Linked DNA regions of Homo sapiens. The protein of the gene in region 2 interacts with the protein of the main gene of each other region in a pairwise test. Each region holds a gene or a part of one and is shown on either strand. Other genes may lie near its edges.

The links.
Region 1: the proteins of ARL13B (region 2) and FUNDC2 interact in binary tests that used the Homo sapiens proteins (3 or more experiments, as listed by UniProt).

Annotation. Positions count from the first base shown.
Region 1 is NC_000023.11:155,025,102-155,028,853, reverse strand, and holds the start of FUNDC2 (FUN14 domain-containing protein 2), read right to left. Parts: upstream 2,011-3,752; 5' UTR 1,916-2,010; coding exon 1,783-1,915; intron 1-1,782. UniProt on the Homo sapiens protein: Binds directly and specifically 1,2-Diacyl-sn-glycero-3-phospho-(1'-myo-inositol-3',4',5'-bisphosphate) (PIP3) leading to the recruitment of PIP3 to mitochondria and may play a role in the regulation of the platelet activation via AKT/GSK3B/cGMP signaling pathways.
Region 2 is NC_000003.12:94,039,140-94,042,891, reverse strand, and holds part of ARL13B (ADP-ribosylation factor-like protein 13B), read right to left. Parts: intron 3,013-3,752; coding exon 2,904-3,012; intron 1-2,903. UniProt on the Homo sapiens protein: Cilium-specific protein required to control the microtubule-based, ciliary axoneme structure. May act by maintaining the association between IFT subcomplexes A and B. Binds GTP but is not able to hydrolyze fit; the GTPase activity remains unclear.

The DNA.
Region 1 (3,752 bases), on a different chromosome or scaffold from region 2:
ATACAACTATCTTAATTTCAAGGCTTATAAAGCAATGACATTCAACACTGTCAAACTGACCCAAGGATACCCAAATATAGCAATGGAAGAGAATCCAGAATCCAGAAATAGATCCACACATATAGTCATTTGATTTTTAATAACTTAGCACCAAGGTAACTCAATGAAGGAAACAACAAATGATGTTAGAACTACTATATATTTGTGTTTCAAAAAAAACTACTCTCAACCTCTACCTTAAACCATACACAAAATATAATTCAAGAATTCATTCAGGATACATCACAGACGCCCATTTAGCAGAACAAAATATGGATGTCTGAGTACCTGGGTACTCCATGGCCTCTCAAGTAGTTAAATAATTTATTTTTCTAATGTAACAACAAAACATTACAGTTTTAACGTAATTTGACCAAGCCCCTTAGATCAACAGGTGGCTCCACTGGGGCTGCAGTGAGCTATGATTGTGCCACTGTGCTGTAGCCTGAATGACAGATCTAGTCCCTAAAAAAGGGAGTAGGGGGGAAGGTAGATTAAATGCGAGATATTTGGTCAGTCATTGGTCAAACACTGCTAAGCACTATGACAGACAAAAGTCAGCCAATAGCTTCGTTTATGAGCCCACAAAATCAATGATCACAGTTATTATGTGATCATCACTGTGATAACAATTGAAACTCATCTTAACCTCAAAATTTCTCACAACAATTTCCTAGGTGCAAATACCTGATCAACCTATAAGAGCAGTCTGCTCTTATAAAAGTCTATAAGAGCAGTCTGCTCTTATAAAAGTCTATAAGAGCAGTCTGCTCTGCAGGAAAATACATAATTATCACATTGCACATTCCACCTTCCCAGAGTCATCTAAAATTTAGCGGCGTGCTGGTGAAATGCTTAACAGTCGGCTTTAGGCAAGGGCTGATTTGTAGTGTAGCCAATTTCCATTGCGTATTCATTCATCGTGAGCATGACATTACTGAATTGTGAAACTACTGAACCCAGAGATGGGAAGAGACGCACAGTAGAGCACCATAGTATAGTATCTCCTCCACAAAGATACAATAGATGTATAAATAACCTCAAAAGTAAAGTAACAATAAAACATGGTAAATAATAAAAGTGATGAGTTTTTAGTATTTTCACTGCCTTTGTTTTTAACATAATTTACGTAATTTTACGTTTATATGATTGAGTTTTCAATGATGGCTCTGTTTAGCAATGGGATCCCGTGAGTCAGTACTAAATTAAATACAACCTAAACATTCAAAATAGGGTAAGACGCATAACTTAAAGACGTGCTCCACTGCGAATTACACGGAATCTTTGACTATGCCGACTAAACAGAAGGCTATTCCTAAGTACCATCCCATATGTGCTAGTTTTTCAAAACCAACAATAAAGCAGTTGGGGAGGTGCCTTGTACACAGAATGACGCCACGAGGCATTTGAGATGAACGTCCAAAGGGACAAAGAAGCCAGACCGCTTCCGAGAACGGGGACAGAATGTCTTCGGGCTTCTGCGCCGGGGGCGGCGCCGGAAGGCTGGGTGAGCTCCACTGGAGACGACACCCCAGGGTGGTTAGGCCCCAGACACGCGCGTGACCTTGGCCGGACCCTGGGAGCGGCTGAGCCAGGGGCGATCCCCGAGCGCCCTCCCCGTCCCCGCGCCGCTTGGACTCCCCGGGGAGCTCGGTCGCGACTGGCGGGCGCGGAGCCCTTCCCCTTCCGGAGCCCAGGAAGGCGGCTCCCCGCGGCGCCGGCCGCGCGCGCGCCCGCCCTTACCTTGACTGGACGCGGCCATTTCGGTGAGCTTGTCTCGCGAGGACACACGTAGAGGATCTGCGCGGTAGGCCGCGGAGTGGCGCGCAGTTGTCGCCACCACTTGGCTTCCGGCACGTGGGGCAGATGTTTCCATTCCCACGGCGGCAGCGGAAGAGGGAGGGCCGGGCGCGCCGCGGCTGCTTGCAGTCTCCGCAAGCGGCTACATCACAGAGCTCAGCGTGCGGTGTCACAGGCCCCGCGGTCCCGCCCAACAGATGCACCGAGATGCGCGTGCGCAGAAAGCGTCCCGGGGGTGAGGCTCCCTCCCTCGCTCTCCCTCTACTCCCGCCCCACTCTCCCCCACTTTCCCCCCTCCACCCACCGCGGCCGTCGGGGCTCGCTCGCTCAGTACCTGGAGGCGAGTTCCTGACGCGACTGCGACTCAATCCTCGCCTGGTGAAGAATATTTTACCTATGACTCACTGAAAATAAAGACGGCTGAGTGACCGTGTTTGTTCATGTAAACATTGAACAAATATTTATCGGCTTCTGCGATGTGTCCTACTCTTTTAGTGGAGGAAGACACATTTTATTTATGTATTTAATTTTTCTTTTGAATTTTACATGCGAGTTATACTTAATAAAACTCACTTCAAAATATACCTTCAACAGAAAATCCAGCAACAGTTTCTATTATGTTAGTTAAAACAGCCAGTCTTTTCCTTTACTTTTAAAAATTATTCATAAATGTAATTAGTGAATGATAATAAACATTGACATCTGATCCACTGCTTTAGGAGTGACACAAATGAAGTTAACTCAGGCTATTTTCTTTATAATCATTGTGCTATTGTTTTCTTTTTCTTTTCAATTATACTGCTTAATATAGGATTTTGTGGCACCATAGGAGTTGAGTAAAAATAAAAGGAATAAAAATATACCTTATCTGGCCGGGCGCGGTGGCTCACGCCTGTAATTTCAGCAGTTTCGGAGGCCGAGGCGGGCGGATCACGCGGTCAGGAGATCGAGGCCATCCTGGCTAACATGGTGAAACCCCGTCTCTACTAAAAATACAAAAAATTAGCCGGGCATGGTGGCGGCCGCCTGTAGTCCCAGCTACTCGGGAGGCTGAGGCAGGAGAATGGCGTGAACCCGGGAGGCGGAGCTTGCAGTGAGCCGAGATCGCGACACTGCACTCCAGCCTGGGCGACAGAGTGAGACTGCGTCTCCAAAAAAAAAAGAAAAAATACGTTATCTATGAAGATTTCCAATTTGATTTCTATTTATCACAAATGGCCACAGTACTCCTTTGTACTTTACCACATACCATATTGTATTCAGTAATTATTTGTGAATATGTAATTGATAATATTGTAGGTTTTAGAGAATCCTTGAAAACATGAAAATTTGGTAATGGGGTCTATTTTGATTATTTATTTATTTATTTATTTATTTTATTTTTGAGACAGAGTCTCGCTCTTGTTGCCCAGGCTGGAGTGCAGTGGCGCGATCTCGGCTCACTGCAAGCTCCACCTCCCGGGTTCAAGCGATTCTCCTGCCTCAGCCTCCCAAGTAGCTGGGACTACAGGCACGTGCCACCATGCCCGGCTAATTTTTTGTATTTTTAGTAGAGGAGGAGTTTCATCTTGTTAGCTAGGATGGTCTAGATCTCCTGACCTCGTGATCTGCCCGCCTCAGCCTCCCAAAGTGCTGGGATTACAGGTGTGAGCCACCGTGCCCGGCCATATTTTGATTTAAAATTTAGCAATAATAGATAAAATTTTCAATCAACTAAGCCCTTGGGCCAGGGAATGCTATTCCTTAAAAAGTGCTTCTATCAATATAGCCTCTGACTCATTACTTTGTTAATTTTTAAATTGTATTTCATTCCTGATTAACATTCCCACCCAGATTATTAATTATACAATCTGTTAACTGTAGAACCTCAAACATGTTGGATTGTACTGTATTTGTCTGGAAGACACATTTTT
Region 2 (3,752 bases):
TTAAAAATGATTTCATGAATACATCATTAAAAGATGCTAAATGTCAAACATTCAGTAAAACAGAAAGTATAACAAAAGCAAACAAATATTACCAGTAATTCCACAATCTAGAGATGACTACTATTCATCTGTATTATTCCGTATATAATCTGTTCAGTATATAATCACTAAGAGATGATTTTCTCTGCCAACCCCCACACATACATACCTATATCATGTACAGACATACATCACCCAGAAACATACATAAATATATGTATCTATATATACTTATGTATTTGTTGTTTAAACAAAAAAGAATTGAAGTTTTTATTGAAGAATATACATTTCTTTCCATGCCAATGAATATATAAAGTGCTCAGAACAGTGCCTTACACATAGTAAATGCTACATAAATGTTAGATACAATTATTTTCATCAATTATTATTTTGAATGTTTATAGCATACCAATTCTGTATCAATGAACAAAGTATTTCCAATTTTTCACTATTTTAAAAAACAGAATCATCCTAATAGCTTTTTTTTAATTTTTTTAGATTAAATTGCTAACAGTAGAACTGTTGAGTCAGTGGGTAGGCAAATTTAAAAATGTCACATATAGTCACAAACTTCCCTTCAGAAAAAATGAATCAATGAACCTCAGGCAAAGGGTTGGGAGAGTGATTTTTTTCTACATCATATTCAATACCACATATCATGATTGACCTTTTACATCTCTGCCGTATTAATACATATTTTTATTTAACTTAGTGTTATTTTCATTTGAGTTTAAGTTAAAATTTTTATTGCCAGCAAAAATGAACTATTATTGAATTATTTTATTTTATTTTTTTTGAGATGGAGTCTCGCTCTGTCGCCCAGGCTGGAGTGCAGTGGCACGATCTCGGCTCACTGCAACCTCCACCCCTCCAGGTTTAAGCAATTCTCTGCCTCAGCCTCCGGAGTAGCTGGGATTATAGGTTCGTGCCACGCCTGGCTAATTTTTTGTATTTTTAGCAGAGACAGGGTTTCACCGTCTTGGCCAGGCTGGTCTTGAACTCCAACCACCTCGGCCTCCCAAAGTGCTGGGATTACAGGCGTGAGCCACCGTGCCTGGCCACTTATTGACATTTTTAATTTTTTTTTAGGAAACTGCCTTTGGTAACCCAATGCCCACTTTTCTATTAGATTCTCATTATTTTCATAGTAATTTGTAAGAGTTCTTTTGTGCATACGTGTCACTAGGACTAGTCACAGAGTCACATAAGACTATGTGTTCTATTTCTCACTAGAGTTTACTTCTTTTCATTTTTGCTTTTTAACTTTGTAGAATAGCTCTTTAAAAATTGGGTAGTATAAGATCTATCCACCTTTTTCCTTTATGATTTGTGGCTTGCTTGTCCTGCTTTGAAATTTTTTCCTCCTCCAAGCACATATAAAGACTTATCTATATTATCTACTAGTAACTTGAAGACTTTCACTTTTTAAAACGTATTTAAGTTTTTGATACTTTTGGAATTTAACTGGGTATACAATATTCAATAATTTTCCTTTTTCTAAATGGTTATTAAGTTGTTCTATTATTTTTTTCTCTCAGATTTGAAATGTTATCTTTATCTTGTACTAAAATGCTCATACATAAATAGGTTTATTAATATTCGTTCCATTGATCTGTCTGTCTCTTCTGGAACCAATACCTTCCAATATCTCACCATTTTAATTATCTGCAGTAATAATAAAAAAAAATGTTAGGTGCTTCTGTACCAAGAAACATGCTAAAAAAGTTTTGTGGGGAAAAAAAGAGAAAATCTGTATGGTTAAAAAAAAAAAACTATAGCTAATTTGCTTTTATTTCTTTACTGGCCATCTTCTTGAAATTGTAGTTTCAAAGCGTTAAGTGTACTTTCCCCATGCCACTTATTAATTTGGGAACTTTCTATATGTGATATATACTATGTCGTACACCACTATTATTCACTTCTATACATTGTGGGAAATACGGTGCTGGGAGAAGCACTAGAGCCTTCTACACAATTTATACCCATGGTACTATAAAATAATTAGCCATTATTTATAAAGCAAGCCTTATTATACACAGAGAATAATTGTTGTTTCAAAGTAAAAAGTACAACTTGACCTCTTCTCTCTCAATATTTTTAAAAGAACATAAAACAAAACTTGACAAATATAATATCTGATAGAATGGAGACAAAAAAAAAAAAAAACCTTCCAGGTAGGACCAGGAAGTCAGCCTAAGGTTTAGGAAGCAATGCCTCAGAAGAGGCATCGCTGCTGCCAGCCATAAAAGCAGAGCCAATGCAAACTCTGGACATGAGCAGAAAATGAAAACAAAAACACAGACGCGCACACACACAACCCCTTAACGTCTTCATAATTAAAATCTACAAATTAATGTTGGTAAAATTTCTGATTTAAAATGGAAATAAATGATATTCAGATATAGGAGAATTTATTGCAGTTTCAAACATCCTTAAGTATCCTGGAAAAATAGAAAATTGTTTATGTACCCTAATGCATTCTAAGTAAATATTGCAGATGGACAGTAACAGCAATACAGAAACACAGAAAATGTAAATAAGAGTAAATATGTTATTACTATATGAAATAAATGACAGAATAGATTTGTCAACACAGCAACTATAATAATTGCTACAGTCAAATTTATTTATTGTCATTTAATTCTGAAGTCATATTCCCCCTTTCACACTAGATTCAAAGGTAATTTAAGAGTAAGAAAAAGCAGTAAACCTTTAATCAGTCTCTCATGTTTAATTTCTTATAGAAATAATCTCTCAGAAGAAACACATCTGTTTCCCTGCCTCCTTTCCCAACTTTCCACCTTCTTTTCCAAGTTCCAACTTATAACTTAAGATACAAAAATTACATTTGCCATCATTCATACCTCAATGATTACAGATGCTATTGGCTGGAAAGGATTCGTTGGTTCTGGGTCCAACTCAGCCAGACCACTGGTTCCATCGAGTTCAGCCTGCTCCTGTTCATTTTGTTTTCTATCGTTTGAGGAAAAATAATTGAAATTTCCTTTGAGAAAGTGCTGAACCATGTTAAAGAAAACTGCAATAGGTATAAGGCTATTACATGTAGTAATTTAAACATCTGGACATGGTTTTGAATTACTGAGAGCATTTCAAAAATCCTTATGCAGGTAAGAGGCTGCTTCCTCCCATGTAAAGACTAATCATTTCAATTAAAAAAATGCTGATAAAAATGACATTTCCTATGAGTGACTTCTTAATATCAACAGTGCAATTATTCTTCCATGTGCCAAGGGTATTACTGATCAACTTATTAATTACCCTCCAAAATCAATGCTGTCCTCTTTACTGGTGTTAACAAATAGTAATTATTCTTTTTTTTTTTTTTTTTTTTTGAGTCGGAGTCTTGCATTCTCGCCCAGGCTGGAGTGCATTGGCACCATCTCGGCTCACTGCAAGCTCCACCTCCCGGGTTCACGCCATTCTCCTGCCTCAGCCTCCTGAGTAGCTGGGACTACAGGCGCCCGCCACCAGGCCTGGCTAATTTTTTGTATTTTTAGTAGAGACGGGGTTTCACCCTATTAGCCAGGATGGTCTCGATCTCCTGACCCTGTGATCTGCCTGCCTCTGCCTCCCAAAGTGCTGGGATTACAGGTGTGAGCCACCGCGCCCAGCCAAATAGTAATTATTCTTATTAATTCTTTTCTTAAGGGCTAAGTCTTCTCTTACAAAACTAGGAAAACATTCCTTCAACT